Linked DNA regions of Homo sapiens: region 2 is linked to region 1. The links come from fine-mapping of genetic effects on gene expression. A gene starts in region 1. The other region holds a variant in brackets. All regions are shown on one strand. Distances are from middle to middle.

The links. PIP is the estimated chance that this variant, and not a neighbour inherited with it, causes the effect. A credible set is the group of variants that fine-mapping cannot tell apart.
Region 2: its variant is the best candidate, but not a certain one, in a credible set for the expression of UNC93B1 in esophagus muscle (GTEx, PIP 0.67).

What each region holds. Positions count from the first base shown.
Region 1 is chr11:67,999,688-68,009,239 of GRCh38, reverse strand. It overlaps UNC93B1 (unc-93B1 regulator of TLR signaling), which reads left to right and starts at 5,143. Exons shown (of 11, transcript NM_030930.4): 1 at 5,143-5,292; 2 at 5,442-5,583; 3 at 6,065-6,218. The coding sequence starts at 5,197. It also overlaps a transcript of ALDH3B1 not described here. RefSeq lists enhancers at 4,100-4,642, 4,643-5,186, 6,091-6,140, 6,241-6,290, 6,391-6,590 and silencers at 5,021-5,320, 5,381-5,790.
Region 2 is chr11:67,972,350-67,989,531 of GRCh38, reverse strand. LOC124902697 (a long non-coding RNA gene) reads left to right here and starts at 10,475. Exons shown (of 2, transcript XR_007062743.1): 1 at 10,475-10,759; 2 at 10,864-11,466. It also overlaps the pseudogene OR7E1P. RefSeq lists an enhancer at 16,967-17,182. The variant T/C (reference allele first, on the strand shown) is at 8,701.

The sequences.
Region 1 (9,552 bases):
CCCATTCATAGAGCCTGTCTTTCTGCAGATCTAACATTTTACAAACGAGGAAGTGGGGGCAGAGAGGGGGTGGGATGTGAACATGGGGCGTGTGTGTGGCAGAGCTTCTTGCTCCAGAGCTGGGGCTGCACCCGTTTCGGATGTCCCCTCTGCCTCCCAGGAGGAGTGCCTGCCTCTCTGCTTAGGACCGTGGTCATGATGCCACGTGTCGCCTTGGTGGTTCCTGTAGTCCCGATCTTCCTCAAGTTCGGCACAGGCAGCTGTGCCTAAGCCTGTCCCTGCCTGCCCCCAGCCCGCCCCGGATACACCTGTCAGAGCCAGCGTGCTGTGGGGATGATGTGCAAGCTGCTGTGGGTGTGGACAGGCAGGGGACAGGGTGACAGGTGTGGAGGAAGAGCCTCCTCTATGCCCCTTCCTGGGCCTGCCGCTGCTACCATCTCCCTGGTGCCCTGGGCCTCCGTAGCTCCCGGCCCCGGGGCCTCTGGGCCAACGTGGCACCTGGGAGGTGCTCATCATGGCCCCCCCCACCCGCCAGCTCCCTGCCTACCTGGGAGGGCGGTGAGGTCTTCTGGACCATGCCCACACCGGTGGCCCGTGATTAGATAGTTAGGGTGGGGGTGAAGGACTGCAGAGCCCCTGTCCTCTGTGTGGGATGGAGCCCCCAGCCACTGCCAGTCACGTGGCTCAGCATGTGACAGCCCAGCCCTGCCATTCTCTGGAGCTCAGCCAGATTGAGCGGGTGCCAGGCAGGGCTGGGCAGGGGCTGAGCCTGTAGGTCTCAGCTGGGAGTGAGGCCCAGAGAGGGCAGCCACTGGTCTAAGGCCACACAGCAAATCAGGGACCCATCTTGGCGGGTACTGGCAGGTGGGAGGGGTGTTTCAGGATCCCGAGGGTCCCCTCCCTGGCCAGGGAGCTGTTGAAGAATTTCCCCCAACTCACAGGGGCCGAACTTGTCATGAATGCAGGAGCAACCTGGGAGGAGGCCCCCGAAGAGGCCTGTCCTCCCGGGACAGAACTCCTAGCCTTCCCTGGGAGTGAGGCTCCCCCCAAGGGAGGCCACACACCTCCCAGGAGGGCTGGGCCCTCCCCACTCTGGGTTGGGTGCCCCTCACTACTCCTCAAAGCTCCAGAGGCTCAGTAGGGCCTGGGAGTCCCATCTTTGTTGAGGAGCCCAGGGTAAATGGGGAGCCCTCTGGGTAGGGCACCAGGAGGACTCACTTTTGGAGCCAGCTCTGGGGTGAGGTCTGCCAAGGCCCAGGCCAGCCAGGGGGAGTGGGTGGAGGGGTTGCTCAGGGCTCCGGGCCAGACAGCTGCGGCCCCGCCTGCCCTGCCTCCTCCTTGCTGGGCTGACGCTTCGCCTCTTTGGGCCTCAGTGTTCCCATGTGAGAATGGGGCTGACTACAGTCCCGGGGGCATCTGTGGGTGAATGAGAGGGTTCGGCAGGCATGGATCTCAGCACCTGGCATGGAGGGCGTTAAGTGTGAGGTCTGGGCTCAAATCCTGGTCCTGTCACTTACCTGTGTGACCTAGGTTAGTGTCTTAACCCCCCGTGCCTCTGCCTTCCCATCTGTAAAATGGGACATAAGTGATTGTGAGGCTGAAACAAGTTATTCCATGCACGTGGGCCCGGAACTGTGACCATTCCAAGTGCCCGGCCCCCTCTGGAAGGGTCTGAGAGCTACCTTCCAGACTCTAGGACAGGAGTGTGGGCAGGGCATGAGCATGGCATCAGGTGGAATCATTCATCCATTCATAATTCATTCATTCATTCCCTCACTTCTCAGAAACACGCCCCTGAGCCTGGCTCACAGGGCCTCAGACCTGCCCAAGAGCATCTCACTGCCTCATCTGCCCACGAGTGACCTTGAAAAGAAACGTCCCCTCACTGGGCCTCAGTTTCCCCAGCTGTAAAATGGGGGCTGACTCTGCCTGCCTCACATGGCTACTGCGAGGGTGAAACGAGAGCCGACCTGAAGGCACCGACAGGGCACCTGGTTCTCAGTAGGCGCTCAGAGCATGTGAATGTCCTCCTGCCCCTCTCCTTGCCCTCCTGAGGAAGTGGCTGCCCCAGGCCTTGGCCCTGAGGCCCTGGCCCTGCCTCCCACCCCCTCCCTGGCAGTCTTGAAGGCTGGACCCACCCTGGCTCCTTGAAGAGGCAAAGTTAGAGGCTGTAGGGGCCCAGGGCCCAGGACACAGTCAGAACTCACGGGCAACGGTGAATGCGGGTCACTTGTTCATTTACGCACTCAACAAACCTTTACTGAGCACCTACTGTGTGCAGACACTTCACACAATTTTCACAATTCCCAGACATTATTGACCATGCTTTCCAGCTGGGCCACACAGTGACAAGGACTCATGGGGATCCACAACCAGCCTGGCCTGGCTCCCCGGCCCACGGTGCTTCCAAGGTGCCTGGAGCCCTCGCACAGGAATGGGCTGGAGTCTTCAGCTCTGGGTGAGCCCTTTGCCACCAACTCTCAGGAGCCTCAAGTCTCAGTGGAAAGCAGCAGCCACCTGGGCATTTGCTGTGCCAGGCACTGGGCAGAGCCTTTGGCACACCCCAACCTGGGGACCTCCCACCATCCTGTGAGCCAGACTCAGTGATCATCATCCCCATTGGCTTTAATGTTTAAAATATTGTGGAATCACATCCATGCCAGGGAAGTGGTGTGAAGGGAATCACGTGGGCTGCCCAGCACGCTCCTGTGTCAGTGCAATGCGGGGCAACAATATTCCAAGAGGTTGTTTCAGGGAGTTCCAGTTGAGAGCAATATTTATTCTCTTCTGCTTGCTTTTCTGCAAGGAACATCGATTATTTTCATAATGAGAACTGAAAGTAAAGGCTTATTATAGAGAAAAGCATTGGCAAACAGTGAGCACGGGGGGATCTGGCCACCCCTTCCTGGGGATGTGACTGTGCACTGTTGCAACCTGGATGGGTTGGTGGAGGTGCTGGCCCTGCTCAGATCTCTGTCCCGCAGGTCACCCTGGTGTGTTTATCTGGGCCACCCTATCAGCCTCTTAGATAGTCTCCAGGCTCCCCAAGAGCAGCTCCATAAACCACCTAAAAAAAAAAATCCTTTCTGGAGAGAGGAGGTGTATCAGTCAGGGTTTAGTGCCTCCAGGGCTGTTTTTTGTTTTTTTTGTTTTTTGTTTGTTTGTTTGTTTGAGAGGTCTCACTCTGTCACCCACGCTGGAATGCAGTGGCACAATCTCAGCTCACTGCAGCCTCATCCTCCTGGGCTCAAGCAATTCTCCCACCTCAGCCTCCTGAGTAGCTGGGGCTACAGGTGTCCACCATCACACCAGGCTAGTTTTTGTATTTTTTGTAGAGATGGGTTGGGGGGGGGGGTTTGTCTCACTTTGTTGAGGCTGGTCTTGAACTCCTGAGCTCAAGTGATCCTCCTTGGCCAGCCAAAGTGCTGGGATTGCAGGCGTGAGCCACAGCGCCCGACCCTCTCCAGGTGTTTTGAGTAGGAGACATTGAGTGCAGGGAATTGGTGGTACAGCACAGGTGATGGAAGAGCCCAGGATGGGCAACCATAGCAACCGCCACAACCCCCAGGCCCAGAGGAACAAGGGGAGGAAGAGATTGCACCAGGCCCCAGAAGTTTGGGGTCCCTCAGGGAAATTGAGAAGCTCGGGGGGCCCACTCCCAGCACTTTGGGGGCTAAGGCGGGTACATCACTTGAGGTCAGGAGTTCGAGACCAGCCTGGGCCAATATGGTGAAACCCCATCTCTACTAAAAATACAAAAATCAGCTGGGTGTAGGGGCACACGCCTGTAATTCCAGCTACTCACAAGGCTGAGTCAGGAGAATTGCACTTTCTCATCATACTGTGTAATGATGCTGGTGTCTGCCATCTGAGAACGGCCCCCGCCATAGCCATACTCTCCCACCTCCTCCCTGCCCCTGCGCCTCGGGCCCTGCCCTCTCTTCGGCTCCTTTCCTGTCTCCCACTTCCAGCCACCCACCTGCATGAATCCACCTGTCTGTTCCCCACATCTGCACTTGGGCATCGTCACCTGGAGAAAGTTCTACCTCCTGGAAGCCTGAAGCCACTGCAGATTCACGCCTCCCCCCACCTTCCCAGCAATCCTTGCGGGGTGGGAGGTGTTTGTCATCCAGTCACTCATGCACCCATCCAGTCACAAGTATTGATCACTCAGTAGGTGCCCAATGCCATCCTCTGCATTTGGGAGAGGATGTACCTAAAGAGCAGTGGGTGGAGGGGGGTGCACAGGGAGGGCATGGAAAACCAGAAGGGAAGTGAAGGGACTGCATTCTCTGCAGGGATGGTCTCTTGTTCTGAGAGCTGAGTGGGAAGGAAGCCACCTGGGAGGCGCAGCAGGAAGAGCATTCAAACCAGAAGGAACCCAGGGGAGAGAATCTGGATATTTTCAAAAGTGGCCCCGTGGCTCCAGCCAGGTCGGTGGTAGCCAGTGCTTTGGAGTGTCGGCCCCACCACAGGCTCCCGCTGCAGCCCGGGATCCAGTGCCCAGCAGGATGGGGGCAGGTGGCTCTGGGCCCCACTACATGGTTGTGGCAGGGTCCCCCATGTAGTTCAGTGGGGATCACAATCTCCACCTCCCAGGACCCACTCAAGCTCCCATTTGCACAGCCCAAACTGGAGCAGGATGGGGACATGGGAGGTGGGCTCTGGCTGTAGCGTCCGGTGGTGGGAGGTGGGGTCCAGGTGGTGACGCTACTGTCCCTGCAGTGCTCTTTGATGAGCTGTAACAGCAGGCTTGGAGGTGGGGCTGGGGACGACCCAGGCAACCCTGAGGGGAGCTTAAGGGAGCCAGGCAACCCTGGCACTTTTCCAAGGCTTTGCATTAACTCAATAGTTCCGCCATGGCCCCGGGGGTAGTGCCATGTATTTCTGTTTTACCGTCGAGGAAACGGAGGAAACCGAGGCACAAAGAAATGGAGTTAATTCCTAAAGTCACAGGGCCAGGAGGTGGCTGAGTGGGGATTCGAACTCACACCCCAGAGGGCACACACAGGCAGGCCCCTGCACACACGCGCGCGCGCGCGCGCACACACACATACACACACACGTGTCCTGGAGGAGGCGGCCCGCAGGGCGGGACAGGGCGGGGCGGGGGCAGGTCCCGGCCGCCGGGAGGAAGTGGCCGGGCGGTCGCAGGGACTCCGGGGCGACCGCCGCGAGTCCGCAGTAGTTCGGGCCATGGAGGCGGAGCCGCCGCTCTACCCGATGGCGGGGGCTGCGGGGCCGCAGGGCGACGAGGACCTGCTCGGGGTCCCGGACGGGCCCGAGGCCCCGGTGAGCGGGGACCCGGAGTGCGAGGCGCGGGCGTCCCCTGTGGGCCAGGGTCCCCCCGGCGGGGGCGGGGCGGGCCGGGGGGCGGCGGGCACCGGGGGACACGGGTTCGGGGCGCGATCGCGGGTGCGAGCGGCGTGCGTGGCTCGCAGCTGGACGAGCTGGTGGGCGCGTACCCCAACTACAACGAGGAGGAGGAGGAGCGCCGCTACTACCGCCGCAAGCGCCTGGGCGTGCTCAAGAACGTGCTGGCTGCCAGCGCCGGGGGCATGCTCACCTACGGCGTCTACCTGGGTAGGTGCCGCTCGGGGACCCGGGGCCGCCCCGCCCGCTCCCAGCCCGGCCCGGGAAACAGAAACCGCGGGCCGCCGCCTCCCGCCCGCTCTCACTTCCCCTCCGCTGCCCTCGCAGCTGCAGCCACGGCCCCCCGCGGCGGGGGTGGGGTTGGGGGGTCAAGTAGCGCAGCGTCCCCGGGTCCCAGCCAGAGCCTCGGTGTGGGTGGGGGACGGGGGTCCGGGCTCCCGGACAGACCTGCCACCGTCAGAATTGGAGGCCGGCGGAGCAAGGCGGGTGGGGGTCTGGGCTTAGCTGGCCAAGTGGCCGCGGGCTGGCAGAAGGCGTGGCGCAGCCCGGGAACCCCGCTGTCCTGAGGGGCGCTGTCAGCGGGAATGCCTTCGGTGATTGGAGCTCCCTGCGAGGCCTGCATGCCGTCTTCTGCTCGGTGGCGCCCAAAGCTAGGCTGCTCCCTGCACGCCGCTCTCTGTCCTGTCCCCAGGCCTCCTGCAGATGCAGCTGATCCTGCACTACGACGAGACCTACCGCGAGGTGAAGTATGGCAACATGGGGCTGCCCGACATCGACAGCAAAATGCTGATGGGCATCAACGTGACTCCCATCGCCGCCCTGCTCTACACACCTGTGCTCATCAGGTGGGCGCGGCTGCTCCTGTGGGATGCTGCGGTACTCCCATTTCGGAGGGGTACAGAGGCCGGCGGGCCAGGAGGTGTCCATCTGCCGGGGTGTTTGTGGGGCGAGGGAACAAGGGAGAGGTTTTTTTCTACCCGGAAGCCTGAGAGTGAAGGGGGTGAAACTCGGATTTGGGGAAGGAAACAGGAACTTTGCCTCAGGGCACATTTGGTTTCCAGCAACAGATTCACACGGGCTGAGCTCCCTCCCAGCTTGCCTGGGCCTCACGTGGCACCCTCCTCGTGGCCTCCTTGGAGGCCTCCCAGAGCCACTGTGGCCTTCAGGGTTGGGGCTGTAGAGTTAGGGGTTTCTGATCGGTCAGCAAAGTCCAGGCACCCATGCCTGGCCCAGTCGCTGTGACTGGTGCTGAGGGGGTGTTTCTCACAGACAGGCATGGCTGGGCAGGTGCCCCAGAGCTCTCCCCCAGATCTGAGCCCTGGAGGTATGTGGTTCAGCCTCCCCATCACCGGTCCACAGTGCCCTCCCTGATGGGACCTGGAGACCAGTGGACAAATTAGGTGAATTTGAGCTCCCTCATCTTTAAAACAAACAAACAAACAAAACAACAAGAGAAAACTCCATTTAAACAAAAATTTGAAAATTTAAAACATCTCCCGTTGCACAGGCAGGATTAGAATAACTGAAATCATAAAAAAGAAACCCCATCTAAGCCCTCCAGGAAATCGGCTACCCATGCTGTCCCACCAGCATGCATGGATTACATTCACATCCTTGTCCCCAGAGCACGTGTGTGGACGTGCCCGTGTGTGTGTGTGTGTGTGTGTGTGTGTGTGTGTGTATGCAAGCGGGCTATGTTTGCTTTTGCTTGCTTACTTTTTTTTTTTTGAGACAGATACTTGCTCTGTCACCTAGACTGCAGTGCAGTGGTGTGATCTCGGCTCACTGCAACCTCTGCCTCCCAGGCTCAAGCGATTCTCCTACTTCAGCACCCTGAGTAGCTGGGATTACAGGCGCCTGCCACCCGGTTAATTTTTGTACTTTTAGTAGAGATGGGGTTTCACTATGTTGACCAGGCTGGTCTTAAACTCCTGACCTCAAGTGATTCTCCTGCCTTGGCCTCCCAAAGTGCTGGGATTACAGGCATGAGCCACAGTGCCCAGAGCTTGCTTCCTTCTTTTCACTGAGCATATCTTAGCCTACTCTACAGCCTTCACAGTTACGACTTTGCAATGGTAGCATCTTCTGCAGATACGGTGGCACTGAACAGTGGCTTGGAATTGGACACTGCAGTTCCTTCTGTGCTTACATCTGTTTCCTTGTTTTTTTTTTTTAAATTATGTGTTTATTTATTTTATTATTATTATTATTTGAGACAGAGTCTCACTCTGTCACCCAGGTTAGAGTGCAGTGGCACGAACACAGCTCACTGCCTCCTCAACCCCCACACACTGGGCTCAAGCAATCCTCCCACCTCAGCCTCCCGAGTAGCTGGGCCTACAGGCGCACGCCATCACATCTGGCTGATTTTTAAAGTATTTGTAGCGATGGGGAGTTGCTATGTTGCTCAGGCCAGTCTCAAATTCACCCGCCCCAGCCCCACAAAGTGTTGGGATTACAGGTGTGAGCCACCACATCCAGCACTCCCCCAATTTTTTAAACAATTATTTTTCCTAGGATACATTTTCAACAATGTCTTTACTAGGTCCAAGCCATACAAAAGGCTTTATGGCTTTTGAAACCTATCACTTCTACTAATAGCAGTGAACTCTTGTCTCCTGTCTGCCCGACACTCTATTTTATTTATTTATTTTTATTTTTACTTTTTTTTTGAAATGGAGTCTCACTCTATCACCAGGCTGGAGTGCAATGGCACAATCTCGGCTCACTCCAACCTCTGCCTCCCAGGTTCAAGCGATTTTCCTGCCTCAGCCTCCTGAGTAGCTGGGATTACAGGCGCCCGCCACCACGCTCAGCTAATTTTTTGTATTTTTAGTAAAGACGGGGTTTCACCATGTTGGCCAGGCTGGTCTCAAACTTCTGACCTCAGGTGATCTGCCCACCTCCACCTCCTAAAGTGCTGGGATTACAGGCACGAGCCACCACGCCCGGCCGTGCTGGGCACTTTATAAGCGCAATTTCATTCCCAATAATTTGAGGAAGCTGCTCCAGTCTTAGACATGAAGAAACCATGGTGTTAAACAACTTGCCCAGGTCCCACAGGCAGTAACTGGCAGACTGAAGGCTTGAACCCCAGTAGAGGGACTCAAATCCACATGTTCACCCCCTGCCAAAACTACCAGGCTGCTTTCCCAAAGGGTTATGCCAGTGTGTGTGACCACTGGCTATATGTGCCACTTTTTTTTTGAGCAATCTTGCTGTTGCCCAGGCTGGAGTGCGGTGACGCGATCTCAGCTCACGGCAACCTCCACCTCCTGGGTTCAAGCGATTCTCCTGCCTCAGCCTCCCAAGTAGATGGGATTACAGGTGTGCACCACCACACCCGGCTAATTTTTGTATTTTTAGTAGAGGTGGGGTTTCACCATGTTGGCCAGGCTGGTCTCAAACTTCTGACCTCAGGTGATCTGCCCACCTCCACCTCCTAAAGTGCTGGAATTACAGATGTGAGCCACTGTGCCTGGCCTATATGTGCCACTTTCAAACCACATCCTCACCAGCAGTGAATGCACATTTTTACTGGCATTTTTACTTAAGGAGCATAAATACAGAAAACTTGAAGATACCAGTAGTGGTTTTTGGCCTGATCAGCCTCCATGGGTGGTTGAGCCCTCATCCTGTCACTCACCAAGCCCCTTCTATTGTCACTGTGTGACCTTTTCCCAGACCCAGAGAGGTGGAAACTTCCTGACTGACCACCATGGTTCATAAAAGCAATGGACTGGAGGCAGGGGTGCCGGGACTCTGGCTCTGCTGCTCCCAGCAGTGGGGCCTCTTCCTTTCTCTTCTCCCAGCCTGAGTCAAGCCCCTGGGCCCTACAGACACAGTGCATGAGCTTGGGAGGAGAAGGGGGAATGGGAGAATCAGAGAGCCCAGAACACGCATGAGGGCTGGTTACACCCATGGGTCACTCTCCATCCTCACAGTGGTGATGAGAGGCCTGTGGTTTGGGCTCCGTGCCCATATTACAGCTGGGAAAACTGAGGCACAGTAGCTTGCCTGAGGCCACTCAGCAAGTCTGTGTATCTGATATTCCATCTCAGTGCCCTCGACTCTCTCTACCTCACAAAGCCCTGTGAGCTGGGACCTGCGGTTGTGGCCCCGTTTGGCTTCAGGCCACAGTGGTCCAGCAGGCCTGTGGTGCCAGCATCTCTCCCACTG
Region 2 (17,182 bases), 24 kb after region 1:
CACGGAGAATGCCCAGATGCTGACATGTGCCAGACAACACATATTTACACCTGATAGGCCACACACATGCAACATGCAAACACACGTGACGGGTAACACCTGTGACAGACACTACATGACAACACACATGCACACATGATGGGAAACACATATCACAGGCTGTGCGACGGGCAACACAGCGCAGGCAGTGCGACGGGCCCTGGCAGCAAGCTCAGCAGGCTGGCTCTTTTCGAGCAGGAGAAGAGCTCATTGTAAGAGATGACACTGGCGTAGGTGGCACCTCCCCTGTCTCCATCACCCCCGGATAAGGTGACTGGGTGGAGGTTCTGGACCCCTGAGTGGATAAGCAGGTTGTGTCATGGCCTCCGTGTCTGATTGCCACCCTCGCTCCCAAAGCAACTCTGTGATTTTGTCGATCTGCACTGTGGGGATTTTTCTTTTTCTTTCTCTTTTCTTTTCTTTTCTTTTTTTTTTTTTTTTTGCAACGGAGTTTCACTCTTGTTGCCCAGGCTGGAGTGCAATGGCATGATCTCAGCTCACTGCAACCTCCATCTCCTGGGTTCCAGCGATTCTCCTACCTCAGCTTCCCGAGTAGCGGGGATTACAGGCGCCCACCACCAAGCCAGGCAATTTTTTTTTTGTATTTTTAGTAGAGACGAAGTTTCACCATGTTGGCCAACCTGGTCTCAAACTCCTGACCTCAGGTGATCCACCTGCCTCGGCATCCCAAAGTGCTGGGATTATAGACGTGAGCCATCACGCCCAGCTGGGATTTTTCAATTATGTGATTCCAAGAATCTCCAGTCCAAGATTTTCCCTATCTTTAAGTTCTCAGTAGCAGGTTAGATAACCTGAGAAGTCTCCCTCTTCAAAACACCTAGAAATGCTGGGTAAGAAACAAATGTCCTTTTAACTATAGAGCTGAGGCCGGGCGTGGTGGCTCACGCCTGTAATTCCAGCACTTTGGGAGGCTGAGGCAGGCGGATCACCTGAGGCCAGGAGTTCAAGACCAGCCTGGCCAATGGTGAAACCCCATCTCTACTAAAAATACAAAAATCAGCCAGGAGTGGTGGCAGGCGCTTGTAATCTCAGCTACTTAGGAGGCTGAAGCAGGAGAATCGCTTAAACCCGGAAGGCAGAAGTTGCAGTGAGCCAAGATCACGCCATTACACTCTAGCCTGGGCAAAAGAGTGAAACTCCATCTCAAAAAATATATAAATAAAATAAAATAAATATATAGCTGAGTTCTTCAGAAAATAAGTTAAGTCCCCTAAGGCCAGAAGTGAAGAGGAGAGTGAGAACCAAGGTGGGGACAGAGGAGCTGGTGCTGCAACTGCCTGAGGGCAGGGCTGGGTTGAGCGTTGGTATCCCTTACAAGGCAGGGGGTTAGGGTTACAGTCAAGCATGATGAAGTTGGGGCCACAGAAATGCAACACCTTTAGAGAAAGGGACAGAAACATTTCCACCCAGGGGAACAGAGAGAGGTGAGAAATTTTGAGCTTTAGGTGGTGAACAAGTTTCCCATGAGATCGTTGCGTTTTCAGGCCTCTCTTATGTAAATGTGGAACTCCTACAATAAAGTCATGCCACCTGTGTGGTCTAGGAATGCCAGAGTTGAGAAATTAACACTAAAAAGTTGCTTTGGGCCGGGAGTGGTGGCTCACGCCTGTAATCCCAGCACTTCAGGAGGCTGAGGCAGGTGAATCACCTGAGGTCAGGAGTTCGAGACCAGCCTGGCCAACATGGTGAAACCCCGTCTCCACTAAAAATACAAAAAATTAGCCAAGCCTCGTGTGCCTGTAATCCCAGCTACTCTGGAGGCTGAGGCAGGAGAATAGCTTGAACCTGGGAGGCAGAGGTTGCAGTGAGCTGAGACTGCGCCACTGCACTCCAGCCTGGGCAACAAGAGGGAAACTCTGTCTCAAAAATAAAAGTTGCCTTGGCTTAGTGGTACCCTGGGACCACTAAAGCCCCTCTGAAGCTCAGCTCACGATCCAAAATTACAGAACACACAGGAAACACATCACCGCGAGAAAAGGCAACAGACATAAAAAAGAGCAGGATTCGACACCCGCTCCAAATACCCCCAGCTAGGAGAGAGAAGCTGTCCAACAGGTATGTGAGATAGGCAGCATCTATAAGGGCTGCCAGCGATCTCCCACCCTTGACTCTTCACAACTTTGTGTAATTTCCATCCCTTGATTGTGGGCTGGACCTAGTGAGTTTCTTTTAACCAACTGAATTCTTATTTTACTATTTTATTTTATTTTATTTTATTTTATTTTATTTTATTTTATTTTATTTTATTTTATTTTACTTAGAGATAGAGTGGCACTGTGTTGTCCATGCTAGGCTGAAACTCCTGGCCTCAAGCAGTCTTCCTGCCTCGGCCTCCCAAAGTGCCAGGATTATAAAGCATGAGCCACTGTGCTCAGCAGCCTTCGCATTTATTTATTTTTGAGACTCGCTGTATCGCCTAGGCTGGAGTGCAAAGGCACAATCTCGGCTCACTGCAACCTCCACCTCCCAGGTTCAAGCGATTCTCCTGCCTCAGGCTTCCAAGTAGCTGAGATTACAGGCGCCTACCACCACGCCTGGCTAATTTTTGTATTTTTAGTAGAGACTGGGTTTCACCATGTTGGCCAGGCTGGTCTCGAACTCCTGGCCTCAGGTGATCTGCCCGCCTTGGCCTCCCAAAGTGCTGGGATTACAGGCGTGAGCCACTGAACCTGGCTAACCAACTGAATGCTAAACTGGCCTGAGAGATTCTCACTCCCTGGTGTCCACACCCCGCTAATGCCCTCCTGTGAGTGAATGTGATGGGCTACAGTACTTTTGAGCTAATCAAATGGGACGCTACCTAATGGACCTGAACCAGTCAGGCAAGTCTTTTAAAAGAAAGGGACATGGCAGAGAGGCGCTCTTCTGCAGGCTTGGAGTAGGGCAAGTGGCCATGGTGCCACCTACAAGGGGGCCCCTGGAAGCCGAGAGTGGTCCCCAATGGCAGCTTACAAGAAAACAGGGACCTCAGTGCCCCAACGTAGGGAACAGCCCCTCTCCCCCCCTGGCTCTTAGGACCCCCATCACAGGGGGGTGAGGCACCCCCTGCGATGCGGGGAGTAAGAGCTAGCCCCTCTTCCCCCCCTGGGTTTTAGGATCCGCGGTGGACTCACAGCCTGTTTACCTTATTTTGAGCAACACCATCTCCCCCTCTGGAGATTATGAACTGTTTCACAGATGGGTGTATACCCTCAGTGTACAGAGGGTGTACACCTTTCTGTATTGGGAGTAATATCATCCTCTTCCTCCATGAATATTAAGAAGAGTATCACAGGGGTGTTTCCACTCCCTCGGATATCGCGTGTCATATCCTCCTGTCCCACGTTGCAATTAGAAACAATATCAGTGGGGGCGTGTCCACCTTCTGTGATATTGAAAGTAATATCATCCTCTTCCCTCCAGGATCATGGGAACAATATCCCTGGGGGGTGTTCACTTTCTGCCATATATGTAGTCATATCACCCCCTCCGCCTTGGAATATTATGAAGGACCATCTCACACAGGGGTGTATACTTCCTGCGATATTGGGAGTAATATCAACCTCTCGGCCTCTGAATATTAGGAAGAATATCACAGGGTGGGTGTACACCTCCTGCTCTATTATGGGGAGTAATATCATCCTCTCCCTTTCAGGATATTAATAACAATTTCACAGGCTGGGTGAACACAGCCTGCGTTGCTGGAATTATTATCACCCTCTCCCCCTCGGGATACTAGGAACAATATCACAGAAGAGGTGTACACTCCCTGCGATATTGGGAGTAATATCATACGCTTCTTCCGTGAATATTAGGAGCAATATCACCGGGTGGCTGTACATTGATTGCTATGTTGGCAGTCATGTCATACTCTACAAGCTGGGTATTAGGATCGGTGTCACAGGGTGAGTGTACACCTACTGTGATATGAAAACTAATATCATGCTCTCCATCCCTGGATATTAGGAACATTATCACAAGTAGATGTACACCCCCTGCGGTATTAGCAGTAATAATATTCTGAATTATTAAACATCAGTCTTATTAATAATTATCAATGGTAATATTAATTAACAGTATAACGTTATTAATCATTAATGATTATTTTTGAGATATGATTATGCATGATTAAAATTAATTATTAATATTAATGTCACTTTTAATATTAGTTATTAATCTTAATATTAATTATTGTTTTATTACCAACATCACTTATGATTGAAGTAACATTAATTAGTGATATCATTATTTTATTATTAATACTGAAATTGCTATTAATTATAAATAGTAACCGTTAATATTTTTCATCCGTACTGTTTTACTGTCTCTACAGTAATTATTAATATTGATGATTACTATTAATTGTTATTATATTTGTAATATTAATAATCAATAGAACTGTTCCCGATATCCGTGGGGGGAGGATATTACTCCCAATATCGCAGAAAGTGTACACCCCTCTATGATGTGACTCCTAATAGCCAGGGGGTAGAGGATGACATTATTGAAAATAGCGCAGTGGGCGTACATCCCTTCGGTCATCTTGTTCCTAATATCCTGGGTGGGAGCGGATGATATGACTCCCAATATCGCAGGGGGCGGAGACCTCCCCCGAGATACTGTCCCTAACATCCAAAGGTGGAGATGATGATATTTCTTCCAATTTCGCCGGGGGTGCACACCACCCTTGTGATATTGATCCTAATATCCAGGCGGCGAGAGGATGATATTAGTCTGAATATTGCAGGATGTGTACACTCCCTAGGGATATTGTTCCTAATATCCAGGGACGGAGAGGATGATATCACTCCCAATATAGCCGCGGGTGTACACCCCTTGTGTGACATTGCTCCTAAAAGGCAGCGGGGGAGAGGAAGATATTATAGCCAATATCGCAGGGGGTGTACACCCCCTTGTAACATTCTTCCTTCTATCCTGGGAGGGAGAGGAAGATACTAGCGGCAATGTCGCAGGAGCTGTACACACCCACTGTGATACTGTTCCGAATATCCGGAGGGGGAGAAAATGATGTTACTTCCAATATCGCAGGGGGTGTACATCCTCCTGTGATATTGTTTCTTATATTCAGGGGGAGAGGATGATATTACTCCCAATATCGCAGGGGTTGTACACACCTCCTGGGATACGGGGAGTAAGAGCCAGCCACTCTCTCCCCCGGCTCTTAGGAGACCCATCGCAGGGGGGTGAGGCCCCCCACCCGGGGTACGGGGAGTAAGAGCCAGCCCCTATCCCCCGCTGGCTCTTAGGACCCCCATCGCAAGGGGGTGAGGCCCCCGTGATGCGGGGAGTCATATCACCCCCCTCTGGATATGACGATTCACTTCGCAGCGGGGCGGGCGCCCCCCGCGATGCGGGGAGTCACATCACCCCCCCCTCCCCGCCTGGATATGACGATCCACATCGCAGGGGGGCGGGCGCCCCCCGCGATGCGGGGAGTCATATCACCCCCCTCTCCCCCCCGGATATGACGATCCACGGTGGTCACACAGTGTGTTCACGTTATTGTCAGTAATATCTTCTCCGCCTCTGGAAATTACTAACTATGTCACAGACGGGTGCACATCCTCTGCGCTCTTTGGAGTAATAGCATCCTCTTTCCCCTTGATATTAAGAACAATATCACAGGAGTGTTTTTACCCCAGGGGCATTCCGTGTAGTATCATCCTCTCCCACGTTGAAATTAGGAACAATATCACTGGGGGCGTGTCCACCCTGTGCGATATTGAAAGTAACATCATCCTCTTCTGTCCTGGATCATGGGCACCATATCACTGGGGTCGTGTACACTTTCTGCAGTATTGGGAGTAAGATCATCCTCTCCGCTTGGAATATTAAGGACCATATTACAGCGGGGCTGTACACACCGTGTGCTATGAAGAAGAGTATTATCCTCCCCTGCCCTGCACATTGGAAAAAATATCACAGAGTGGGTGTGCACCTCCTGCGATGGGGGGGTGATATCATCTTCTCTTCTTCTGGATAATAGCAACAATAGTACACGGGTTTGTACACTTTCTGTGATATTGGGAGTAATATCAACCTCTCCACCTTTGAATATTAAGAACAATATCACAGACAGGATGTACACCCCCTGCGATACTGGGAGTCATATCAGCCTCTCCTCTCCGTGGATATTAGGAATAATATCCCAGGATGGGTGTACGCCTCCTGCTGTATGGGGAGTCATATCGTCCTCTCACTTCCTGGCTGCTAGGAACAATATCAGAGGGTGGGTGTACACAGCCTGCGATATTGCGAGTAATATCACCCTCTCCCCTCCGGATATTAGGAACAATGTCACAGAAGGGGTGTACACTTCCTGAGATACTGGGAGTAATAGCATTCTCTTCTTCCGGGAATATTAGGAGGAATATCACCGGGTGGATGCACACCCACTGCTATCTTGGGAGTAACGTCATACGCCACCCCCTGGAGATGATATTCGGATAAATATCACCGGGTGGGTGTACTCCTACTGCGATATTGAAAGTCATATCATGCTCTCTCCCTCCCTGGACATTAGGAACAATATCACAGGTGGGTGTACACCCACTGAGGTATTAGGGATAATATTCGTATTAATTCTTCCTCATTTATTATTAACATGAATATGTATTACTAATATTAATATTAAGAAATCATTGCTAAAAAAGTGTTCAGATTATTAAAATTAATGTTAATTATTAGGAGTTAATATGACAGTTTTCTAATGAATAAGATCAATATCACTAAGACCAGGCGTCATTAATCATTAACATTCATCATTTGTTGTTATTGTGAGTATAGCTCTTTAATATGAATTATCATTATTATAGGTATTGATTTTAAGAATTATATGATCAGTTATTAATATTGATAATTATCAGTATCAATTAATAATTGATATTATTAATTGCGGTAAGTAACATTGCGCCATTCCACCCCTCCCTTGGCAGCTCGTTTACGACCCAAAACGGGGATCCAAATGCCCCTGAGAGAGCAGCGGTATACTGGGAGAGAGGAGGATGGTCACGTGGTGGAGAGGCGTGTTTTTGTGTAAAAGCCCTTCACCTCTGCCGACCTTCTCAACTGGGAAAACAATACCCCGTCCTAGAGCGAAAAGCCGCAAGCCCTAATAGATTTGCTCCAAACTGTTATCCAGACCCACAACCCCACCTGGGCTGATCGCCACCGGTTGCTCATGTTCCTCTTTAAGAGAGGTGAAAGGCGAAAGGCGGAGAGGGCTCCACGCAGCAACTAAGTGGCTAGAGGAACATGCACCAGCTGATTATCAAAACCCCCAAGAGTATGGAAGGACCTAGTTACCAGGAACCCACCCCCAGTTGGACCCACATGAAAGAGAGGATATGCAAAGGCTAAACCGAGACAGGGAAGCTCTCTTGGAAGGATTCAAGAGGGGAGCTCAGAAGGCCACAAATATTAATAAGGTCTCTGAAGTCATTCAGGGAAAAGAAGAAAGTCCAGCACAATTCTACCAGAGACTGTGTGAGGCCTATGGTATGTATACTCCCCTTGATCCCGATAACCCTGAAAATCAGCGCATGATTCAAATGGCTTTAGTCCGTCAAAGTGCGGAAGACGTTAGAAGAAAACTGCAGAAGCAGGCTGGGCTTGCAGGGAGGAATACATCACATTGATGAGAAATAGCTAAGCAGGTGTTTGTAAACAGGGATACAGTAAGCCACGAGGGAAAGCGCAAAGAGAATGGAGATCAGGCCCGGCAAAACGCCGACCTGTTTGTTAGCTGCAGCAATCAGAGCTGTCCCCCCAAAGAAGCAAGGGAAGGGGAGCCCTGGGAAAGAAACTCAGCTTGGCTGTCAGAGTTTGCAGCGTAACCAGAGTGCTTATTGTAAAGAAATAAGACATTGGAAGAACAAATGCCCTGAGCTCAAAAGAAAACAAGGTGACTCAGAGCAGGAGGCCCCGGACAAGGAGGAAGGGGCCCGGCTCAACCTGGCAAAAGGATTATTGGACTGAGGGAGACCAGGCTCAAGTGTCTCCAAAGAGCCTCTGGTTAGAATGAGAGTCGGGGGTAGAGACATTGACTTTCTTGTGGATAGCGGTGCTGAACATTCGCTAGTAACCGCTCCGGTCGCCCGTTATCCAGAAAGACCCTTGACATCACCGGAGCCATGGGGGTTTCAGCAAAGCAAGCTTTCTGCTTGCCTGGGACTTGCACTGTAGGAGGACATCAAGTGATTCATCAGTTTTTGTACATGCCTGACTGTCCCTTGCCCTTGTTGGGAAGGGACTTGCTTAGCAAGCTGAGAGCTGCTCTCTCTTTGACAGAACACAGCTCTTTGCTGCTAAAGTTACCCGCCACGGGAGTCATTATGACCTTATGGTCCCCCGAGAGGAGGAATGGAGACTTTTGTGAACTGAACCGGGCCAAGAGAGAAGACCAGCTCTGGCTAAGCAGAGGCCAAGAGTACGGGCAGAAGACAACCCTCCAGGGTTGGCTAGTTAAGACTGGGGCCCAGCCACTTAGGCAAAAACAGGACCTGGTCCCCAGAGAAGCTCTTCAAGGTATCCAGGTCCATCTTAAGCACCTAAGAACTTTTGGTATGATAGTTCCTTGTCAGTCTCCACAGAACACTCCCCTCCTGCCTGTTCCCAAGCCATGGACCAAGGATTACAGGC[T/C]GGGACAGGATTTGCGCTTGTTTAGTCAAGCTACCCTGACTTTACATCCAACAGTACCTAGCCCGTCCATGTTGTTGGGGTTGCTGCCAGCTGAGGACAGCTGGTTCACCTGCTTGGACCTGAGAGACGCTTTCTTTTCTATCAGATTAGCCCCTGAGAGGCAGAAGCTGTTTGCCTTTCAGTGGGAAGATCCGGAGTCAGGTGTCACTACTCAGTACACTTGGACCGGGCTTCCCCAAGGGTTCAAGAACTCCCCCACCATCTTTGGGGAGGCGTTGGCTTGAGACCTCCAGAAGTTTCCCACCAGAGACCTAGGCTGCGCATTGCTCCAGTAGGTTGATGAGCTTTTGCTGGGACACCTCATGGCAGTCGGGTGCACCAAGGGAACAGATTGCCCTACGCCGACACCTGGAGGACTGTGGGTGTAAGGTGTCCAAGAAAAAAGCTCAGATCTGCTGACAGCAGGTATGTTCCTTGGGATTTAGTATCCGACAGGGGGAACGCAGCCCGGGATCAGAAAGAAAGCCGGTCATTTGCAATCTAGCAGAGCCTAAGAGCAGAAGGCAGGTGAGAGAATTCTTAGGAGCTGTGGGGTTTTGTAGACTGCGGATCCCAAACTTTGCAGTATTAGCCAAGACTTTGTATAAGGTCACAAAGGGGGCGGGGATGGGAAATTTTTGAATGGGGATCCCAACAACAGCAAGCCTTTCGTGAGTTAAAGGAGAAACTTATGTCAGCCCCAGCCCTGGGGCTACCTGATCTGACAAAGTCTTTTACATCCTATGTGTCAGAGAGAGAGAAAAGATGGCAGCCGGACTTTGAACCCAAACTGTGGGGCCTTGGCCGAGGCCGGTGGCCTACCTCTCTAAACAACTAGATGGGGTCTCTAAAGGATGGCCCCTGTGTTGGAGGGCCTTGGCAGCAACTGCCCTGCTAGTACAAGAAGCAAAGAAGCTGACTCTTGGGCAGAACCTGAACAGAAAGGCCCCCCATGCTGTGGTGACTTTAATGAATATTAAAGGACATCATTGGCTAATGAATGCCAGACTCACCAAGTACCAAAGTTTGCTCTGTGAAAATCCCCGTGTAACCATTGAAGTTTGTAACACCCTGCCACCTTGCTCCCGCTATCAGAGAGCCCCGTCGAGCATGATTGTGTAGAAGTGTTGGACTCAGTTGACTCTAGCAGACCTGACTTCTGGGACCAGCCTTGGGCATCAGTAGACTGGGAACTATACGTGGATGGGAGCAGCTTCTTCAACCCCCAAGGAGAGAGAGGTGCAGGGTATGCAGTGATAACCCTGGACACTGTTGTTGAAGCCAGATCGTTGCCCCAGGCCACTTCAGCCCAGAAAGCTGAACTCATTGCTTTCATTTGGGCCTTAGAGCTCAGTGAGGGTGAGACTGTCAACATTTACACTGATTCTCGGTATGTCTTTTGAACCCTTCACATGCATGGAGCGTGATAGAAAGAAAAGGGCCTATTAAACTCTGGGGTAAAAGACAGAAAATATCAACCAGAAATCTTCTATGTATTAGAAGTAGTATGGAAACCCCACAAGGTGGCAGTTATGCATTGCAGGGGACACCAGCGAGCTTCCACCTTGGTGGGCTTGGGGAATTCCCGCGCTGACTCATAGGCTGGAAAAGCAGCATCTGCCCGTTTCCAGGCATCAGTCACAGCTCCTCTGCTCCCTCAAGCACCTGATCTTGGACCTGCTTATTCTAAAGAAGAAAAGGACTTTGTCCAGGTAGAGGGAAGGACAAGTGATGGAGGAAGGATGGAGAGTAGCTGCGCCACAGCTGCTAGGAGCTGCAGTTGTACTGGCTGTGCAAGAAACCACCTATCGAGGTCAGGAGTCACTGGAAAAGTTGTTAGGCCGGTATTTCTACATCTCGCGTTTCTCAGCCCTTGCCAAAACGGTGAGGCAGCGGTGTGTTACCTGCCGACAGCATAAAGCGAGGCAAGGTCCAGCCGTTCCACCCGGCATACAAGCTTATGGAGCAGCCCCCTTAGAAGATCTCCAGGTAGACTTCACAGAGATGCCAAAGTGTGGAGGTAACAAGTATTTACTAGTTCTTGGCCGTACCTACTCTGGGTGGGTGGAGGCTTATCCAACACAACTGAGAAAGCTCGTGAAGTAACCCGTGTGCTTCTTCGAGATCTGATTCGTAGATTGGGACTGCCCTTCCGGATCGGCTCAGATAACGGGCCTGCGTTTGTGGCTGACTTGCTACAGAAGACGGCAAAGGAATTGGGGATCACACGGAAATTGCCTGCTGCCTCCCGGCCTCAGAGTTCCGGAAAGGTGGAGGGGATGAATCGGACTATCAAAATAGTATTATTGTCTTCCGCGATGGATATGTAAAACAACACCACGAGGGGCGTCAAACCACCTGCTACATTTGAGGGAATGTTATCCTCTCCCCCCCTCCCCCGGCCCCGGATATTAGAGGCAATAACACAGGGGTAGTGTACACCCACTGCTTTATTGGGAGTAATGCCATCCTCTGCCTTCTTGGATATTAGGAACAATATCACAGTGTGCGTGTACGCCTGTCGTGAAATTCAATGGTATGTCATCTTGTGCCTCCCTGGATATGACGAACAGTATCACAGGGGATGTACAACTTCTGAGATATCGGGAGTGATCTCATCCTCTTCCCTCTGGAAGTTAGGGACAATATCACAGGGGTAGTGTACACCTTCTGGGACTTTGGGACTAATATCCTCCCACCCCCTGGATATTAAAAACCATGTCACAAGGGGCGTGTACACACACTTCGATATTGGTATGAATACCATCCTCTCTCTCTTTGGATATTCGGTGCCATATTTCAGGTGGGGTTTACACCACCTGCAATATTAGAAGTCATGTTATTTTCTCCCCCTCCTGGATATTAGAAAGAGTATCACAGGGGGGTGTGAACAACCCTTGCGATATTTGGAGTCATATCATCGTCTCCCCTCAAGAATATTGAGAACAGTATCTTAGGGGTGGGGGTTGTATACCCCCTTTCATATTCGATATCATCCTCTTCCCCCCTGGATATTAGGAACAATATCAAGAAGGGATGTACAGACCCTGCGACATTTGCTGTCATGTAATTGTCTCTCCCCTAGATATTAGGAAAAATGTCACTGGGGATGTGAACACCCCTGCGATATTGGGAGTAGTATCATCCTCTCTCCCCTTGCATGTTGGGAACAATACCACAGGTGGGGTGTACTGCCTCTGCGATATTGGGAGTACAATTATCCTCTCTTCCCCTGGATACTAGGAAGGGTATCAGAGGGGGAGGGTGTACATTCCCTGTGATATTCAATGTCACCTTATCTTCTCCCTCCCAGGGTATTCAGAACAATAGGACAGGAGGGGTGTACACCCCCTGCGATATTGGGAGTCATATCATCCTCTCTCCCTGTGGATATTAGGAAGAGTATCACAGGGCTGTGGAAACACCCTGCGGTACTGGGAGTAATATCATCCTCTCTCCCTCTGGATATAAGGAAGATTTTCACAGGGGTGTGTACACCCCCTGCGATATTGGGAGTAATATCATCCTCTCCACCAAGGAAATGACAAACAAGGTCATGGGGGGTGAACTCCCCCTGAGATATTGGGAGTCATGTCATCCTCCCCAAACCTGGATGTTAGCAACGAGATCACAGAGGGGGTGTACACACCCTGCGATATTGGAAGTAATATGATCCTCTCCCCACCTGGATATGGGGAAAGATATCACAGAGCGGGTATACATTTCCTACGCTGTTGGGAGTAATATCATTCTTTTCCTTTCTGGATATTAGGAAGAATATCACAAGGGTGCTGTACAATTATTTCAATATTGGGAGTACTATCATCTTCTATTTTCCTGGATATTGGGCCCAATAACACAAAAAGGTGTACAACCCCTGCTATATTGGGAATAATAGCATACTCTCCTTCCCTGGATGTTAGAAAACAATATCATCAGGTCTGAACACCCCTGCGATAATGGGAGTAATATTGACTCTTTCACAGGCCATTTGGTACAATATCACAGGGGGTGTTTACAGACAGGGGTGGTGTACACCCCCTGTGATATTGGGAGTAACATCATTCTCTCCACCTACTGACAATAAGAACAATATCCCGGAGGGAGGTGGTACACCCCCAGTGATATTGGGAATAATGTCATCCTCTCCTTCCCTGGATATTAGGAACAATATCACAACGGGGTGTACACCTTCCGTGATATTGGAAGCAATATCATCCTCTCCCCCGCTGGATATTAGAAAAAAAATCACTCACGGTGTACACCCACTGTGATATGAGGAATAATATCTTCCTAGAGTATTATGAATAATTTCACAGTCTGCACACACATGGTGTACACTCACTGTGATATTAGGAGTAATATCTACCTAGTAGAAAACAAATAACATCGCAGGGTGCACACCCATTTTGATATTAGCTGTAATATTTTTCTAAGTTGTTACAAATAAGATCACAGGGTGTACAAACATGGTGTACACTCACTGTGATATCAGGAGTCGTATCTCTGTAATATATTATGAATAATATCACAGGGTGTACACCCACTGTATTATTGGGAGTAATATCTCTGTAGGATATTACAATTAAGATCACAGGGTGTACAGCCACTGTGATATTAGGAGAAATATCTTTCTAGGATATTACAAATAATATCACAGGGTGTACGCCGACTCTGCTGTCAGGTGCAATATCTCCCTAGGCTGTCAAAAATCCTATCACAGGGTTTCCAATCTCTGCCTTCCAGGTTCTAAGGGATTCTCCTGCTTCAGCCTCCCGAGTAGCTAGGGTTACCCGCCACCACACCCGGCTAATGTTTTTTTATTTTCACTGGAGACGGGGTTTCACCACGTTGGCCAGGCTGGTCTGGAACTCCTGACCTCAGGTGATCCATCAGCCTCGGCTACCCAAAGTGCTGGGATTACAGGTGTGAGCCATGGTGCTGGGCCAAGAGTTATAGATTCAATTCATTTGGAAACACAGCTCCCATCTTTGAGCGTGCATGTACTTTTATGAAGAAGTGATGTCAGAAAACCGAAGGATGATAATAAATATGAAAAGTAACAGGCATGTGAAAATCTTTCGATTGAGAACTATAAGGTTCGATGTCGTTTTCAGATAATGGGGTCCTAGCTCTTGTGTCGTCCTTTTACATATTCTACATCAATGGAAGTTGTAGCACGGGGTCAGAATAAAGTAGAGTGCATTTCACGGCTTCTTAATTTCTTTCAATTAGACTGAGATCTTTTTCTTCAAGAGAAAGGACATTGTCATTGCATTGTATTTTTTCTGAAAAGAGTAGGCCGTATTTTACTGAGATCACGGATTTGTTATATATAACGTTTTGGTCTCTGATATTCTTCAGTGGATTTTCTCTAAAGTAGTATGTACAGAAAGCCTTGTATAGCAAAAAAGTAAATCACGTAATAATTCTGAGATTTTTTGGAATTGTCACAACTGAGAAACATTGCTGGCGGTGTATGGTCCGCAAGTGTGAAGATGTTCCTTGTGAATTGCTTGCATCCAGCATTAAGGGCTGGTTTTTATCTGCTATTTTTCCAATCCTCTTTCCTTCTCAAGGTGTCCAAGACACACAGAGCCACGGAATCTCACAGGTGTCTGAGAATTCCTCCTCCTGGGACTCTCAGAGGACCCAGAACTGCAGCCTATCCTCGCTTTGCTGTCCCTGTCCCTGTCCATGTATCTGGTCACGGTGCTGAGGAACCTGCTCAGCATCCTGGCTGTCTGCTCTGACTCCCCCCTCCACACCCCCAGGTACTTCTTCCTCTCCAACCTGTGCTGGGCTGACATCGGTTTCACCTCCGCCACGGTTCCCAAGATGATTGTGGACATGCAGTCGCATAGCAGAGTCACGTCTCATGCGGGCTGTCTGACGCAGATGTCTTTCTTGGTCCTTTTTGCATGTATAGAAGGCATGCTCCTGACTGTGATGGCCTATGACTGCTTTGTAGCCATCTGTCGCCCTCTGCACTACCCAGTCATCGTGAATCCTCACCTCTGTGTCTTCGTTTTGGTGTCCTTTTTCCTTAGCCTGTTGGATTCCCAGCTGCACAGTTGGATTGTGTTACAATTCACCATCGTCTAGAATTTGGAAATCTCTAATTTTGTCTGTGACCCCTCTCAACTTCTCAAACTTGCCTGTTCTGACAGCGTCATCAATAGCATATTCATATATTTCGATAGTACTATGTTTGGTTTTCTTCCCATTTCAGGGATCCTATGGTCTTACTATAAAATCATCCCCTCCATTCTAAGGATTTCATCGTCAGATGGGAAGTATAAAGCCTTCTCCACCTGTGGCTCTCACCTAGCCGTTGTTTGCTGATTTTATGGAACAGGCATTGGCATGTACCTGACTTCAGCTGTGTCACAACCCCCCAGGAATGGTGTGGTGGCATCAGTGATGTATGCTGTGGTCACCCCCATGCTGAACCTTTTCATCTACAGCCTGAGAAACAGGAACATACAAAGTGCCCTGTGGAGGCTGCACAGCACAACAGTCGAATCTCATGATTTGTTCCATCCTTTCTCTTGTGTGGGTGAGAAAGGGCAACCACATTAAATCTCTACATCTGCAAATCCTGCCCCTTAGTCACATTCTTTCTGTGGCTTGATGGCTTTTATTCCTTTCCACATTTCCTTTGTGAATATTGCTTTCTTCGCTATGCCTTTCACTGGAATGGGTGAGGATTCTGGGACCCTTTGTTTAGCAGAAACCTCATGACAGAATCCTCTATACCTAGGTGGCCTCTTTTAGTTTCTGAGCAATAACCCTGTCATCCAGGTGGAATCACAACCATCTTTTTATATACACGAAGTCCTCACTTCCTTTTGGAATTCCCTGAAAACTGACTTTATGGAAACAATGTACAGGAGGTCCTCCAACACCATCAGTTGTTCAAAGATGTGTAGTTATACTGTTGATGAAAAATAAGTGGTTTCACTATACATAATTTTGCTTAAAGGTGAAGTTTCCAAGAGACTTTCAAAGATGTTAAGTGAGGACATGCTGTACATCAAATTCATATCCTCTTCCACAGTCCACGTGGAATATCTTTATAAACTGCTTCTAGAGAATCTATTTAGGCAGGTTCTGTGTAGAGATCCATGTCGCCATTCCTCAATCTTGGCTTTGAGTCAAATCACCTGGGGAGCTTACAAATGATGAGGCCTGGGTCTCAATACCTGAGATTCTGATTTCCTTGCACCTGTGTGAGTATGTGGATTTTTTTTTTTTTCTTTTAAAGCACCAGAGGTGGTTCCAATGACGAAGTTTTTAGAGGCATCAAGCTCCAATGAGTAAGAACAGAAATTAATTGTAATATGATTTCTTCAAATATTATCTTCAAATGCATTGTCCATCAACACCATACAAATGTTTATTATGTTGTTGTTTCTTACCATTTCGCATTTTCTATTTCTTTCTTTTCCTTATTTTTTGAGTCAGATTTTCACTCTTGTTGCCCAGGCTGGAGTTCAATGGCACGGTCTCGGCTCACTGCAGCCTCTGCCTCCCGTATTCGAGCAATTCTCCTGTCTCAGCCTTCCAAGTACCTGGGATTACAGGCATGCGCTACCATGCCTGGCTAATTTTTTTTTTTTTTTATATTGTTAATAGAGACAGTGTTTCTCCATTTTGGTCAGGCTGGTCTTGAACTCCCGACCTCAGGTGATCCGCCCGCTTCCGCCTCCCAAAGTGCTGGGATTACAGGCATGAGCGACTGCGCCCAGCCACCACTTAGCATTTACATTTTACATTTGTTGAAGTTGTAGATTTATACACACATTGATTGCTGCTTTGTTATACACTTGCATATACATAAGATAGGAAATAGAAAAGAATAAAATGGACACAGTATCCCTGAGGTTTCACATTCTGAGACATTTTAAAAATATTTGCTCTTCAGAAATTTGTTTCAATGAAGAAACTGTGGTATACACACCCAGTGAAGTATTATTCAGCCGAAAAAGGAAGAAACTCCTCTCCGCTGCAGACAAAATGGATGAGATTGCAGGTCTGTATATTAAATGAAAGAAGCCAGGCACAGAATGACAAATATTTCATGTCCTCACTTCTATGTAAGAAGAAAAAAGGAAACCTTGGCCAGGTGTTGTGGCTCAGGCCTGTAATCCCAGCACTCTAGGAGGCCGAGTCGCACGGATCACTTGAGTCCAGGAGTTCGAGATCAGCTTGGCCAACATGGTGAAACCCTGTCTCTACGGAAAACACAAACAATGAGCCGGGCGTGGTGACGCGTGCCTGTAGTCTCAGCTACTCAGAGGGCTGAGGCCCAAGAAGCGCTTGAACTTGGGAGGTGGAGCTTGCAGTGAGCCCTGATTGTGCCTGTGTACTCCAACCTGGGTAACAGAAAGAGACTCCATCACACACCTACACACAAAAGGAATCTCAGGAAGGTGGAAAG